Homo sapiens: one gene and its partner. The protein of the gene in region 1 interacts with the protein of each later gene in a biochemical or structural test. Each region holds a gene or a part of one and is shown in the gene's direction. Other genes may lie near its edges.

Region 1 (7,282 bases):
GACCAGCCTGGGCAACATAGTGAGACTCTGTCTCTACATAAATAACAAATTTAAAAAAATTAGCCAGGTGAGGTGGCACCCACCTGTGGTCCCAGCTACTCAGGAGGTTGAGGCGGGAGTATCCCTTGAGCCCAGGAGTTTGGGGCTGCAGTGAGCTGTGATTGCACCACTGCGCTTCCAGCCTGGGTGACAGAGCCAGAAGCCATCTCAAAATAAATAATAAGGTCTATTCATTTTTTAAAAGATCCTTCTAGAGAAATCATGTTGAACATCAAGGGATGAGTTCCTAGCAATGCAGTTTTGGGGATAGAGGTTTAGGAGTTACGCCATTGTCACTAGCACGTTCCACCGGTTTTTCTGGTGCACACCCGAACCTCCTCCAGTGCCAATCAAACAGATCTGATTCCTTCTTTCAGTTCTGCAAGCATGGCCAGTGACTTCAGGAAGCGGAGGAAGAGCGAGCCTGCAGTGGGTCCACCACGGGGCTTGGGAGATCAAAGTGCGAGCAGGACTAGCCCAGGCCGAGTGGACCTCCCAGGATCAAGCACCACTCTTACAAAGTCTTTCACTAGCTCTTCTCCTTCTTCCCCATCAAGAGCAAAAGGTGAGCATAGTAAATGAAAACACAACAATTTACTAGTTTACGTTTTAGCCTAGAGCACTGTGTGAAAGCTGGCCCAGTGATAGTGGCATGTGCCAGCTCTCACCTACAGTGTCTGGAATAAAATATAGTTTTAGAACAATAGCCTTCTTCCCACCCAGACTGACTCAAGCTGGCGAGCCACTTAGGTTGCTTAAAGAACTCTGACTAGCATCTGCTAATGCTTTTTTCCCCCAAATAGATCCCTTTCTAAACAAATTGAAAGTATCAAATAATGTATCATCAGGCTACTAAAAGATGTATTTTGTAAACATTGACATATAGTCAAAATTTTCTAATGTTTCTACAACTAGCAAATTAGTCAAATTTATAGGATAAAAATTACAAGCAGCAACAGAGCAAATTGTTGGCTAAAATATACATTGGTTTGGAGGGTTTTAAAAAATTATTCAATTCTAGATTTTAAAAAAATCCGACCTATTAATTTCTTTAGCCATTTGCTGTATATTTTGGGCCACCTTCACATGAACAGTGGAGCATCCACCTCCTGCCATGTAACACAGTGGTCAATTCACAGCAGCTCACAGTCAGGACTAATTGGTCCCAAACCATAATGATATCACTGAGGAATCACCAAGCCTTTTTTTCTGGATGGCCCGTCTCCTCTCTGCAAGTGTAGGGAGCTCACTGTTGAAAGAAGTCACTCCTTCTGGTTTCTGGAAGACCATTTAGTGGTATTCCTTGAGGACAGGAATATTTCTGAGATGGAGAGTGAGGATTGAACCAGCCCCTACAGGGAGCTAGGGCTCTACCAAATGTGGGACCCCACAATCTCCTCTAATATCTTGGGATTGAAAGAGAAGAGAAAGAGATTTTGAAATGTGTAAAGAAATTGAGCTCTAATGTAAGTTTCTATAAAACCAGACCAATTCAGCTACACCTATCAACTATAGTCACTAAAACCATTGCCACATGGTAGTTAAAAGTGGTAGCTGATTTGTGTGCAAAAGGTATTCTGGTCGTGATGATTGGACTCTGAGTAGGTGGATGCCTAGCCCTTTTAAGGCCTTGTAAAGCTGTGATATCAGCTGATGGTTCAGGGCGTGTGAGCCCCATCCATCACATCTTTCCTCTGAGGAGCAGAGATGCCTTATCAGATTCAACTCACTTATTCAAATGAATATCTTAAGGTAACAAGTAGGTCATGAAATGCCATTGACCTATTATTCTTGGATACTAGCCAAAAGTTAAAAGGGTTCTGATAAATGTAGATATTTGTTTCATCACAGGGAATGTTAAATCAACTTCCTTTCCCAGACAGTACAGATCTACCTAATGTGCTTATCTACTTTTAAAGAATTTAGAGAACATTGTAAGGTATAAGTATTGAATAGAGATATTTTCCTCCATTAGATTTTATTTCTAGGAAGAAAATGTCCTATTAGATATAATTTGGCTCCTCATTTATTAGTTGACTCAGCAAAGCAAAAGAACATTTCCATAGCTATTCAAAATTGAGGCCAAATGTAGATCTCTATTATCAAATTGCAAATGATTTTTCAAAGAACTCTTCCGAGAAAAAAAGCATGGTATATGCACCTCTGATGAAAGTTTTGCATTATATTCAGTTTTCCTATGAGAATTTTGTACCTAATAAAAGGTTAAAGGTAGAGCAATTTAAGAGGTAAATTCGTTTGTTTAAAGAGCTTTAGCTATTTTTTTCTAGAAAAATGTTAGCAGCAATAGTTCACAGCATTTTGATTTTGCAATTTTGGAGAATACTTTGCCTTATAGCTTTTAAAATCTAAAACCCACAAAAAATTATTTGATATAGTCATGAGAGTATTAATTCGATGTAAATGTATAAACCCTTCTTCACCTATGTATCATTACGAATCAAATGAGGCTCAAATTCCGGCCCTATTAAATTGCGTAAGGGTATAACACTTTTGACACTAATTGTTAAACCTTCACTACCAGATCATGCTATCAGCTGAAGCAGCACTATTGTGTTTTGGCAAACAATATTGTCAGAAAGGTGTATGAATTATGCAGTAGGAGTAGGTGTATTTGCTTACGTCGGTTGCTTCTTATACACAGTTTTGTCAACTCTCTCTGCAAAGCTACATTCACTGAAAAAGTATTAGCTCGCTTTAGAATTAGACCTTCTTCTCTAGAGTTGAAGCTCCATGTGTGAACAATCAGCACCTAGATTAAAACACACTAACTGCTTTCTCCTTGCTATGCTGTCTGATGCTTTACTGACATGCTCTCCTCTCTTTGTGAACCTTTTAACTTCTCCAAATGTCTCTCTTCTACCACGCTGCTCTGGATTAAAAGGTGGGGATGATAGCAAAATATGTCCATCCCTTTGCAGTTACTCAGGGCTCAACGGCAACCCCTCCAGTGAGTTAGATTACTGTAGCACTTACAGACAGCACTTGGATGTCCCTCGGGACTCACCAAGAGCCATTAGTTTCAAGAACGGCTGGCAAATGGCCCGGCAAAACGCAGAAATCTGGAGCAGCACGGAAGAAACCGTCTCTCCCAAAATCAAATCCCGGAGCTGTGACGATCTCCTAAACGACGACTGCGATAGCTTCCCGGACCCGAAAGTCAAGTCGGAAAGCATGGGCTCCCTGTTATGTGAGGAGGACTCCAAGGAGAGCTGCCCCATGGCGTGGGGGTCCCCCTACGTCCCGGAGGTTCGCAGTAACGGCAGATCAAGGATCAGACACAGGTCAGCCCGCAACGCCCCGGGGTTCCTGAAGATGTACAAGAAAATGCACCGCATCAACCGCAAGGACCTGATGAACTCCGAGGTGATCTGCTCCGTGAAGTCCAGGATTCTGCAGTACGAGAGCGAGCAGCAGCACAAGGACCTGCTGCGCGCCTGGAGCCAGTGCTCCACGGAGGAGGTGCCCCGGGACATGGTGCCCACACGCATCTCCGAATTCGAAAAGCTGATCCAGAAGTCCAAATCCATGCCAAATTTAGGGGATGACATGCTGTCTCCCGTAACCCTAGAACCACCGCAAAATGGCCTATGTCCCAAGAGGCGGTTTTCCATTGAGTATTTGCTGGAGGAAGAAAATCAAAGCGGCCCCCCCGCTCGGGGCCGGCGAGGCTGCCAGTCTAACGCCCTGGTGCCCATTCACATTGAAGTCACCAGCGATGAGCAGCCCCGAGCACACGTGGAGTTTTCCGACAGCGACCAGGACGGGGTTGTGTCCGACCACAGTGACTACATTCACCTAGAGGGGTCATCCTTCTGCAGTGAAAGTGACTTTGATCACTTTTCCTTCACATCCTCCGAAAGCTTTTACGGATCCAGCCACCACCACCACCATCACCACCACCACCACCACCGCCACCTCATCAGCTCCTGCAAAGGCAGGTGCCCGGCCTCCTACACTCGATTTACCACAATGTTAAAACACGAAAGAGCCAGACACGAAAACACCGAGGAGCCCAGAAGGCAAGAAATGGACCCTGGCCTTTCTAAACTTGCTTTTCTAGTCAGTCCTGTGCCTTTCCGGAGGAAAAAAAATTCGGCTCCTAAGAAACAGACTGAAAAGGCAAAATGTAAAGCATCTGTGTTTGAGGCTCTGGACTCTGCCCTTAAAGACATCTGTGACCAAATTAAAGCTGAAAAGAAAAGGGGGAGCTTGCCGGACAACAGCATCCTGCACCGCCTCATCAGTGAGCTGCTGCCAGATGTTCCCGAGAGGAACTCATCCCTGAGAGCGCTGAGGAGGAGCCCCCTGCACCAGCCTCTCCACCCACTGCCTCCCGATGGTGCTATTCATTGTCCACCCTACCAGAATGACTGCGGGAGAATGCCCCGCAGTGCCTCTTTCCAAGACGTGGACACAGCCAACAGCAGCTGCCACCACCAAGACCGTGGCGGTGCACTCCAAGGTGGATGAGCTTTTCTTTCTTTTTCCTTGTGGTTCAGAGACCCACCCTCCAGCTCTTTCATTTTCCATTCCAACATCTCATCACTCCCGAGCTGGGAGACCATTTGGCGTCGTTATGTGTTGTGAAGCAAAAACTTGTTGTGCAAATATGTCTTACTGAATATTTCTCATTTGCCCATGTGATATTTGGACTTGATGTGTGGCTTAAAGTGATCATCAATTCACAAAAATTTACTCTTTCGAAAACGAGAGGGAAGGCCATTTTGTAGCTCAGCATTAGGGTTGAAACAACCACTACTCACATTGAGACAATAAATTACGTTGTGACATGAATCAAAACCTATAGTTCCACAAATAGCCTTTTAAAAATGTTTATATTAACGTTAAAACTTTATATTCATTCAGTTAATAAATAATTTGTCACATTCTATATAGAAGATACTATATCAAAACATTCAAGAAGCAAAACTGAAATATGTGATTAGTAATTGATGGACACAAAGAAATTAGGGTTTGTTTAATAGCTTTCTCCATTTCAAGGACACAATGGTGATAAAATTTTTGTGAATGTATCTTTAAGCTATATATATAAAAGTCCCATTTCCACCATTTAGTGTATTCATTTTCTCTTTTCCATTACTTAATTCATTCACTTTCTCTTTCTGCTAAAACAGTCCTGTATTGAAATTTGAATTACACTATTCAGGCTAACAGTGACTCTAAACTCTATTTTCATAGATAACTTTGAAGTGGCAACACAAGAATAAATAGCAATTGAAAGGCAGAGGACTATTTTTGAGATTTATATAACTTACAGCCCAGGGTGTTTTAATATTTGTGACCAATTATTTTCATTAATTCTTACAGCACATCTGTTCACTACGTAAATTTTAAGAGGCTGGAATGAACATTCCGGGCTGAAAGTTGGTCAACAGAGAAACTTCTATGCACCAGACACTACAGAGTGCTTTACATACATTATCTAATAAAACTGGCATAGGCCTATGAAATGGGTGTTATTTCAAAAGCCATTTTCAATTTTGGAAGTTGGGCCCAGAGAGGAAAGGAAATTCGTCCAAGGTCACACAGAGAGTAGATAACAGAAAAGAGATTCAAACCCCTAATAATTCAGAATTTATAGTATAAAATATAATCTCAGACAAAAAAAAAGACATAATTCACAGTTCATACTAGTGTCAAATATGGCTCGATTGTTAATTAACTTGCACAAATCTACTTAGTCTTTATGTTTGCTTTCACTTTTGCTACACTATACACTTACGTTTATCTTTGCCTACCCTTAGGCTGAAGCAACATGCTTCAAAATAATAAATTAGAATTTAAAAAATCAATTTCTACAATTCAAAATTTTCACTAATTGAAATGTGTCAGAATCTCATTTTTTAATAAATTAGCTACCTTCTCCAGGCTTTTAATATCCTAATATAACCATCTCTCAATTTTATGTGCAGATAGGAGTACATTTTTGAAACGTAACTTGGAAGGGCTTTGAAATGCATTTAAAAGTATTTTGTTTTTTAGTAAAATATTTACTTTCCAATTGTGTTTCACCCAAGTGAAAAATAGCTTATATTCCCTGGGTTAGAAAAAGTAATTTAAAATTTATGATCATTATGAGGCCCTATGATCATAAAAGTATATTAACTTAGAATTTACATCATCAAAGTAGTCAAAATCCTAAAACAATGTTTTCTTATTATGAATCAGCACTTTAAATTCTTTCATAGATGGATAAAATAAATTTTATTTTTAATGCTTCTTGTTAGTCTGGATAACTAGATATATTTAAGGGATAAAAGAAAGAATTGACAAATATTGACCCAGTTGTACTGATAAAATTCTATAACATAGACTACTGGAATACATTTAATGTCTAGTTACATCTCCATATGTAAGTCACGTAAGTGCAAAAGGTATAAGATACTATTAAGAACTACATGCAATCAAAATTTTGTAATGTGATTATTTATGCTTTGCTTTAAGATGAACAAAAATAATTCAATATTTCATAAGCAATTTGGCAACTGACATGATGCTTTCTGTTTATCCCTTTTTTGCTTGGAGTAAGAAGAAACAATATCTCTTTGTTTCTTTGCTTTCTGATAAGGTGTTTATCATCTGGGCACAAAGGAAGGTCGTAGATAAACAGCATGGCATCTTGAGATTCAATAAGTATTTAAAAACAGAGGAAGAGCGAAGAGGGGAGAGTAAGGCAGAAGGAGAATGTTCATCACCACCCTCCTGTCATCCTCATACTTTCTTTGGTTTTATCTCTTTCTTTTTCATTACTACAGTCTTAAATTACTCCACAAAATGTTTCTTTTTCTACAAATTGTTGCTATTTTCAAATTCTCCATCCTCTGTAAATCTTATAATAGTAATTATAAATAAGAAGCAAAGGCATAGAAACAGAAAGCTTTGGAAAAAATTTATATGAAAAATCCCTCTAACTATAAATTGTCTTACTGGGTGTGGCAATATAATTAATCAGCAATGTAGTAATCATATTTATATAGACAATTATAATTCTGCAACCTCAGATATTTTTCCTTTTGAAATGCTCTTGTTTTGTGTCTTATTTCACAACTTTGTAATGAACTATGAGTTTTATGCCCATGTGTTCGATAACGGTGTCTCTCCAAATTTGGGGAAAAAAGTAGTGGCCACCAGGGAAAATGGCGGAACAGGTTGGCTTGTAATTAAGTGGATACTCACCATGACTGGCCCTGTTCTTTCCAAT
Region 2 (7,143 bases), on another chromosome or scaffold:
AGGAAGTTTAGTAGTTGCTCGCCACCCCCGCAGCCATTGCAGCCGGGTCCCCGTGTACCGCCGCAGCCCGTATTGCAGGGCTGCCCCCCACCACCCTCTACGCTTCATTTTCATGGGATTTTACCTGTCTGACGATTTTGTGGTCTAGGAGTGCCGCCATTTTGATGTAACTAGAGAATCGGAAACTCTTGCATAGGAACCCTATCTGTCCATGGTTTCCAATTTCCTGTTCTCACCAACATGTTTGCTAACTTAACCAGCTTCGAGTTAGCTTCTCCAAAAGTAGGTATACTTTTCTGCGCTTCTTCTATAGTGAGGGCTACCATGCCACCCACTACCAATAGGGTGCTTTTGAAAGCATGCTCCCAACGCCTGGGTAAGCTGTCTGTATTAGTTTCCTGTGGCTGCTGATACAAATTACTACAGACTTGATGGCTTAAAACAACACAAATTTTTTAATCTTATAGCTCTGGAGGTCAGTCTAAAACCAGTTTAACTGGGCTAAAATCAAGATGTTAGTAGACCGGTGTTCCATTTGGAAGACTCTAGAGGAGAATCCTTTTTTCACTTTTTCTAGTTTCCAGAGATCACCTATAGTCTTTTATTGATGACCACCTTCCTCCATCTTCAAAGTGCATGATTTCAACCTCTGTTTCCATCATCCCATCTTTTTCTTCTGCCTTTGACTTTCTTGACTCCTTCCTATAAGTACCTTATGTTTACAATTGGGCCAACTAGGGTAACCCGGAAGCCCAATCACTGGTAAGGCACCAATCACTGGTTCCAAGGATTAGAACTTGGACATCTTTTCATGGCCATTATTCAGTGATGAAATGAGCCCAGATGACAAGCTCTGGCTTGCAGTAGTGCTTACAGGTGCTATGAGAATACAAATAAGGTAACCAGCCATAGGATATTTAAACAACATTTAAAAATCTCTTAACTAAAAACAAGCATACGAATAACAACAACGAAAAGAAGTGCTATCAGTTTTCCTTACACAATATCATTGTTTGTTTTCAAGTAACTATAAGAATTAGAATATAAATTTCATGGCCAAAGTACCAGATGTATATCATTTTTAAAAAATCTCAGCATCAAATCCTCCTTATTCATCACTCTCTGATTTTATTTTGAGGAATTACCTATCTTCAATTATGTATTCTTGTGGAAGTGTCATAAATCCAGGTGCCCACCCTCCATCCTGAAAGTCGAGAAATCAAACGTTTCTTCTTCCTGTCCTGGTATATATAGCCAGGGAGTCAGTGCCTCCATGAAGTTTGGCCAAGCAAATAAATACTCAACCCTGTGATTTTGAATCTTGATTCAGTAATGGAAGGTGAGAAAAATTTGGTATTTTCTCAAGTAGACTGTGCAGCACCAAACCAAACTGCTGTCTTTCCTGCTTCCTAGCCCATCGGTATTGCCTCAAATCCTGACTGTTTCCAAGACTGCTTTCCAGTCCTCTCTTTAATTCTGGAAGCTTTCAATATTTTTCTAATAAATTATTTTCACTTAAGTTAGCCAACTTTGGTTTCTGTCACCTACAGTCAGAAAAACCTAATAATAGCAATGTTACATCGATATTATTGTTGCTGGGTTAAATCTACCATAACAATTTTGTAAGAAAATTGATTTTCCACTTCAAGTAATTTTATTCACTGAATTCATCTAATTTGAGTTAGGGCCTGACAATGATACTGACCTTCTTATTTATGTGATGTCATTGGAAGAATCTATGGATTAAACGTGGTTAGATACCAGGATTAAGCTCTAGTATTCAATAGTACAGCAGAGGAACTATATAGTTTAATTTATTGTATATTTCAAAATAGCTAGAAGAGAAGAATTCTAATGTTCCCAATACGAAGAAAAGATAAATGAGGTGAGGGATATCCCAATTACCCTGATTTGATCATTATGCATTGTATATATATACCAAATTATTGTATCTACCTGCAAAATATGTGCAACTGTGATATATCAATTTAAAAATTAGAAAAGAAAATCTATTAATTAAACATATTTACAAATCTGGAAAGGCAAATTTTCCAAATTATGAAGGCTATTATCACATATCAGTATTTTGCCTTTTCAGGGAATCCGATTTGAAGTGTCCCTATAATAATTCTTTTTTTTTTTTTTTTTTGAGAGTCTCGCTCTGTCACCCCGGCTGGAGTGCAGTGGTGTGATCTCGGCTCACTGCAATCTCCACCTCCCGGGTTCAAGTGATTCTTATGTCTCAGCCTCCAGAGTAGCTGGGATTACAGGCGCCCACCACCAACCCAGCTAACTTTTGAATTTTTAGTAGAGATGGGTTTTCACCATGTTGGCCAGGCTGGTCTTGAACTCCTGACCTCAAGTGATCTGCCCATCTCGGCCTCCCAAAGTGCCAGGATTAGAGGTGTGAGCCACTGAGCTGGGCCCCTATAGTAATTCTTGAATTGTCTGAGAATATCTTTTAGATCATTGCTAAAGCGTCGGTGCTCATGATATTACAATGCTGAGAATTTACCTCCATTTAGTGGTTTCAGTAATTGTTATTTTCTTTAATGGAAAATCACTCAGTGAAATTGCAGGAAAGAGGTTATTTATCTGAGTCATATTTTTATGAAAACTGTTTTTCACTTCCTTGCATTTTTAGAAGTGTTGTCTTTAAAAGGATATTCTATTAATATTTATAATTAGACATCACACAAAACAGATGCTAAATCTTATGCTATAACTTCTGGATAAAATTACATAAAGATTATGTACTTTTTGGCATAATATTCCCTCAGGAAGCTGTAGAACAAAGGACATTCTCCATGAAGATGCCATTTCTTTTTTTAATAGAAGGAAATAATAAGGCAGTGATTAACCACGATTATTTTAACTACTGTAACGTTTGCAATTAAGTGGGCAGCGCAGGAGCTCAATAAATACTTAATTGATTTACTTTTTTCTCTCCTTGACCCACATCGCAATTCACCCACTCACGCCGCTATCCCTATTCTAACTTTGAAACCAAGTGGATTCTCTCTGTTTTCAGTTTGTGGAAGCGTGGTGCTCAGCCTGTGTGGAGGGGCCTGGCTTCCAAGTGTACTTGGGGTGGAACCTGGGGACTTTACCGAGGGCACAGGTCAGGAGATGAGATTCGTTTCGCTTTTTGAATTACCTTTTGGCCTGTACCAAGATGAACTGGTGGGATATATAGTGTCATCGAACCCGGGAGAGTTGTTGTGGAGGTGAGGAAACAGCTCTGAGGGATAACGGTTTGAAAGTAGTGGCGCTGGGGACGAACATGGGTCCCTGCGAGTCTGAGACTCTCTATTGCCCCCATCTCCTTGCTGCCGATTACTTCTTCAAAAATTCTCCTAGGGACCCTGAGGAGGGACGGGAGAGGTCAGCAAACCCTCTGTCCACCAACTTGATTTCCTGTGATACAAAGTGTCATGAGTTCTCCTGCTTTCCTCCCTTAAAAAAGACAAGATTAGGAACAACGGCTGGCAAGAGAGGAGGGGAAAGCTTAATTCTCCACAGATGCTGCGCAAGGGAACCAATGGGTCACGCCCACTCACGGGTGGCCGCCTCTCTGTTCCATCCCGGGGATGTTGGGCTTTCCCCTCGGTCCGGGGCGAGCGCACTTCCCACCCGGAGACTGAGCGGGCAGCACTCGCAGGCCAGGAGCGCGTTCCGGGAGGCGCCGGCGCCTCCCCGCGGCCTGGGCGCACGTGCCTGGGCTGGGGCCGGAGCCCGCGGTCGCGCCGCGCCGTAGTAGCTGGGGCGGGTGGGAGCGGCTGGCTCCGGGCCGCGGCCGCCGCCCGCCCGCCGGCTCCGGTGGTTGGGCGGAGGAAGCGCGGGACTCCTCCTCCCCACCGTATTAACATGCACCCAGGGGCGGGTCACCAGCCCAGCCTTGCAGCCCCAGCCCGCCGCGTCCCGGCGCTCAGCCTCCGCTCCAGAGGCGAGCGCTGCGCTTCGGGCGCCGCAATCTCCAGGACACGGCCTCGCGGACACCTTCCGCCTCGGGGAATCGGCAGCATAGGCGGCGCGAACGGCCGCCGCCGCCTCGGCTCCTCTCTCGAGTCCTTCCCGTCACCTCGCTGAGAGCCGGTCCTGGTCGCGGGGACATCTCTCTCCTTCCTCCGAGGCTCGTGGGACCAACGGACGGACGCAGCCAGCGAGGGCCGGACTGCGGGACGCGGCCAGGTAACGCCGGGCTGCGCCGCGGGGCTGGGGCGTGCGCGGCGGCGGCGGTCGCGGCGCGCTGGGTGGCTCCTGGCTGCTGCCTGCCGCGCGGTCGCCGCTTCCCTCGCCCGCGGAGGGGCTGCGGGCTGGGCTCCCCCGGCCGCTGGCTCGAGAGTCCGCGCTCCTTACCCTTTCAGCCGCCCGGGGTGCACTCCCGGGCCCTCCGGGTAACCTGGGATCTCGGGGGCGAGCGCGTCCTCTCCGGCCATGCGGTCCTCGCGGCTCCCCACGGGGACCCAGGCAGGGGAAGGATTTCTAATTGCGACAGGGTCCCGGAAGGGGGAGGGGAGGAGAACACCGGTCCCCTGTCCCGGTCATGTCCACCGGTCAAATTCGCACCCCCACCCCACCCCCGATGCACCTTGCAGGGGAGGAGGGGGCTGCTCCCCGCAGGGCTTTCTCGGCAGGCTCCTGGGTCGTTTGCAAAGCAAGTTGTTGCACTAGCTTTTTGGGTGACATTTTGGCATTGTGGAAAAGGACCAACTCCCCCGTGCGTTTGTAAGAGAAAGCCAAAGAAACAGAGACACAAAGACAGGCACAGAGAGAGAGAGAGAGAGAGAAATGGGGTCCAAGGAGGAGGTCACTGGAGAGTCGCCCCCTGCCCGCGGCCAAGGCCAATTCCCGGAGAATCGCGGGGCGGGCCGGGAGACCCGACATTCAGCGAATTGAATGAGCCGGGCTGGAACCAAGGCCAAACAGGGACCTCTCCTCTGGGCTGGGCGAGATAACACATTGCACTTTCATTGAGGGGCGGCTGCAGCTGGGAGAGGCACCTTCGGAGGGCCCGCGGCGATGAAGACCCTGCTTTCAGGACTTCGGCTGCTGCGCTTTTTGCGGAAGGCGCGCTGTCCCGGCCTCGCTGGGTGGCACCGGGAGGCCGTGGGAAGGGGTGGCCCGTGGCTCGGCTGCCGGCGCCGGAGACACTGAGTGCCTGTGTCCGAGTGCCGCGCTCGCCCCCGGCTGCAGGGCTTGCCTCCAGCCCGACCGTAGCGCTGCGGAATTTTCTGCTAGAGAAGGGGAGGATGTGCGGAGGGCAAGGGGTTAAAGGTAGCCAGGCGGCAAGCAGTGGGACGCTGGGTGGGAGATGTCACGTCTTTTGTGGATCCAGGCGAGACTCTTCACTCCTTACTCCTGACACAGAGACTGACTCCCGGTCGTGGGAGGTGAATGCTCCCTGCCTCCTTCCATAACACGTGAAGTTAGGGAATTACGAGGAAAGACATATAATAAAAGTACCAATTAAAGACAGATCTTTTAGCTTTTGTGGTCTTCGTGAATGGCTTCGTAGAAGGTGAGGATAGATCAGTCTAAGATGTGGTTAGACATGGAGATGAGAAATGCTGAGAACTAGGAAAGCGATTTTAGGTCCTAAGGCAAACATCCTGCAAATTATTTTTTACCCTGAAAGAGCTGTTCTAAAAAGAACAGCCCTTTGACTGTTATTTATAGCACGATTTCAGTTCAGGAAACGACTTTCTATTGGCCTAGGTCATTTTGCATATAAAGCAATACTTTTTATTCCTTGAATAAAACTTGAACGGAAATGACATGGAGGCAAGAAATTTTACAAGATCCTAATTTATTTCATGCCAGAAGAATATAAAGTTTTCTTTAAGTTTTTAAAAGGAAATTCAAGCCTATAAAGAAATAATGAATATGTCTATGCAAAATGTATGATTTTAAAAAGTTTAAGTTATAAACGCTACCCTTGGTTCAGAAAATTCATACTCTGGCATGAAACAAGAAAGTTCATAGAAGTCAGGTGTCAGTAGCCCTGTTCTTAATTTCCTTTAGATTTAGTACTTAAATGTAAAGTTGTTTCAGTTGGTTAGTGCCTTGCAATACCCCTAGTCGCAGATATAAAATTCTGTGAATTTTTAAAAAACTAATTTACTTAAGAGAAAATGTTAGTTACCTTGTGTGAGTAAAGAAGAATGTACTTGCATACATAGATTTTTTTAAATTTATAGCTATCTATTTCTCTATATTTCATTCTAAGATTAGTCTGCAAATACAATACTTTATCTCAAACATTACAGGCAATATAAATATGGGCAAAAGGAACTGGTTAACATTCTTTTAAATATGTCAAAATAATTTTCTGACAAGGCTTCTTAAATCTCACACAAGCAATTGTGCTTTGGGGAAATAATGAGTATATGAGTTTTCCCTAGGAGGGAATTTTCATGGTTTAGCATCTTTAATTTCTCCATCAACATAAGCTTTGTTCTGCCAGGACTAAAAACCCAGTAAAAGCATATTAGCGATTAGTGAAAGCAAATGGAGACAAGACCTTCCTTCCAAAATATTATGTAGCGCATATAGAGAAATAGCCTAAAACTAATTGTAGTGTTCTACTTTTTAAATCCTTCTAAGCTTAAGTGTCCTATTCAACCCAATTTGGGAATAGAAACTGCATGCACTTTGAGTTAACTCTATTAAATATGTGTGCCTTTGTTCCATATAGCCATTTAGATTGATTTTTTTTAAATATAAAATTAAAACTTGGAAGAGGGGGACTTGTTTTACAAAGTACTCATTTTAGTGAATATGAGCAATATTCACTAATATGCAGCAAAGTAATAGTTTCATCTACAACTTAATCGAGATGAATACCATATTCTTTGAACATCAACTCTTTCAGAAACAAAGAATTCAGTGTTTTGATTCTGATCTCGTAATATTTCAAATTCAGAGATAATAGTAAAATGTTATCTAATGTGTATTTCTATAGTGAAATTTCTATGATCAGCTCAAATTCATGTTACCTTCATGACCATTCCCACAAATTGCTCCACTGTTTATCAGAGGAGAGGAAATTGGTTTCCTCTCAGGAAGCATCCAATTAAAATCTACTTTTATGTAGATTTCATCTCTATAGAAATCACACTTACCTCTCTTTTCTTAAATTAA

Evidence for each region. Proteins that work in one complex are often made in the same cells at the same time.
Region 2: the proteins of SORBS2 (region 1) and DLGAP1 form a complex in vitro, tested with the Homo sapiens proteins (one study listed by BioGRID).

Annotation. Positions count from the first base shown.
Region 1 is NC_000004.12:185,620,154-185,627,435, reverse strand, and holds part of SORBS2 (sorbin and SH3 domain-containing protein 2), read left to right. Parts: intron 1-416; coding exon 417-604; intron 605-2,941; coding exon 2,942-4,522; intron 4,523-7,282. UniProt on the Homo sapiens protein: Adapter protein that plays a role in the assembling of signaling complexes, being a link between ABL kinases and actin cytoskeleton. Can form complex with ABL1 and CBL, thus promoting ubiquitination and degradation of ABL1.
Region 2 is NC_000018.10:4,452,054-4,459,196, reverse strand, and holds the start of DLGAP1 (disks large-associated protein 1), read left to right. Parts: upstream 1-3,889; 5' UTR 3,890-4,191; intron 4,192-7,143. UniProt on the Homo sapiens protein: Part of the postsynaptic scaffold in neuronal cells.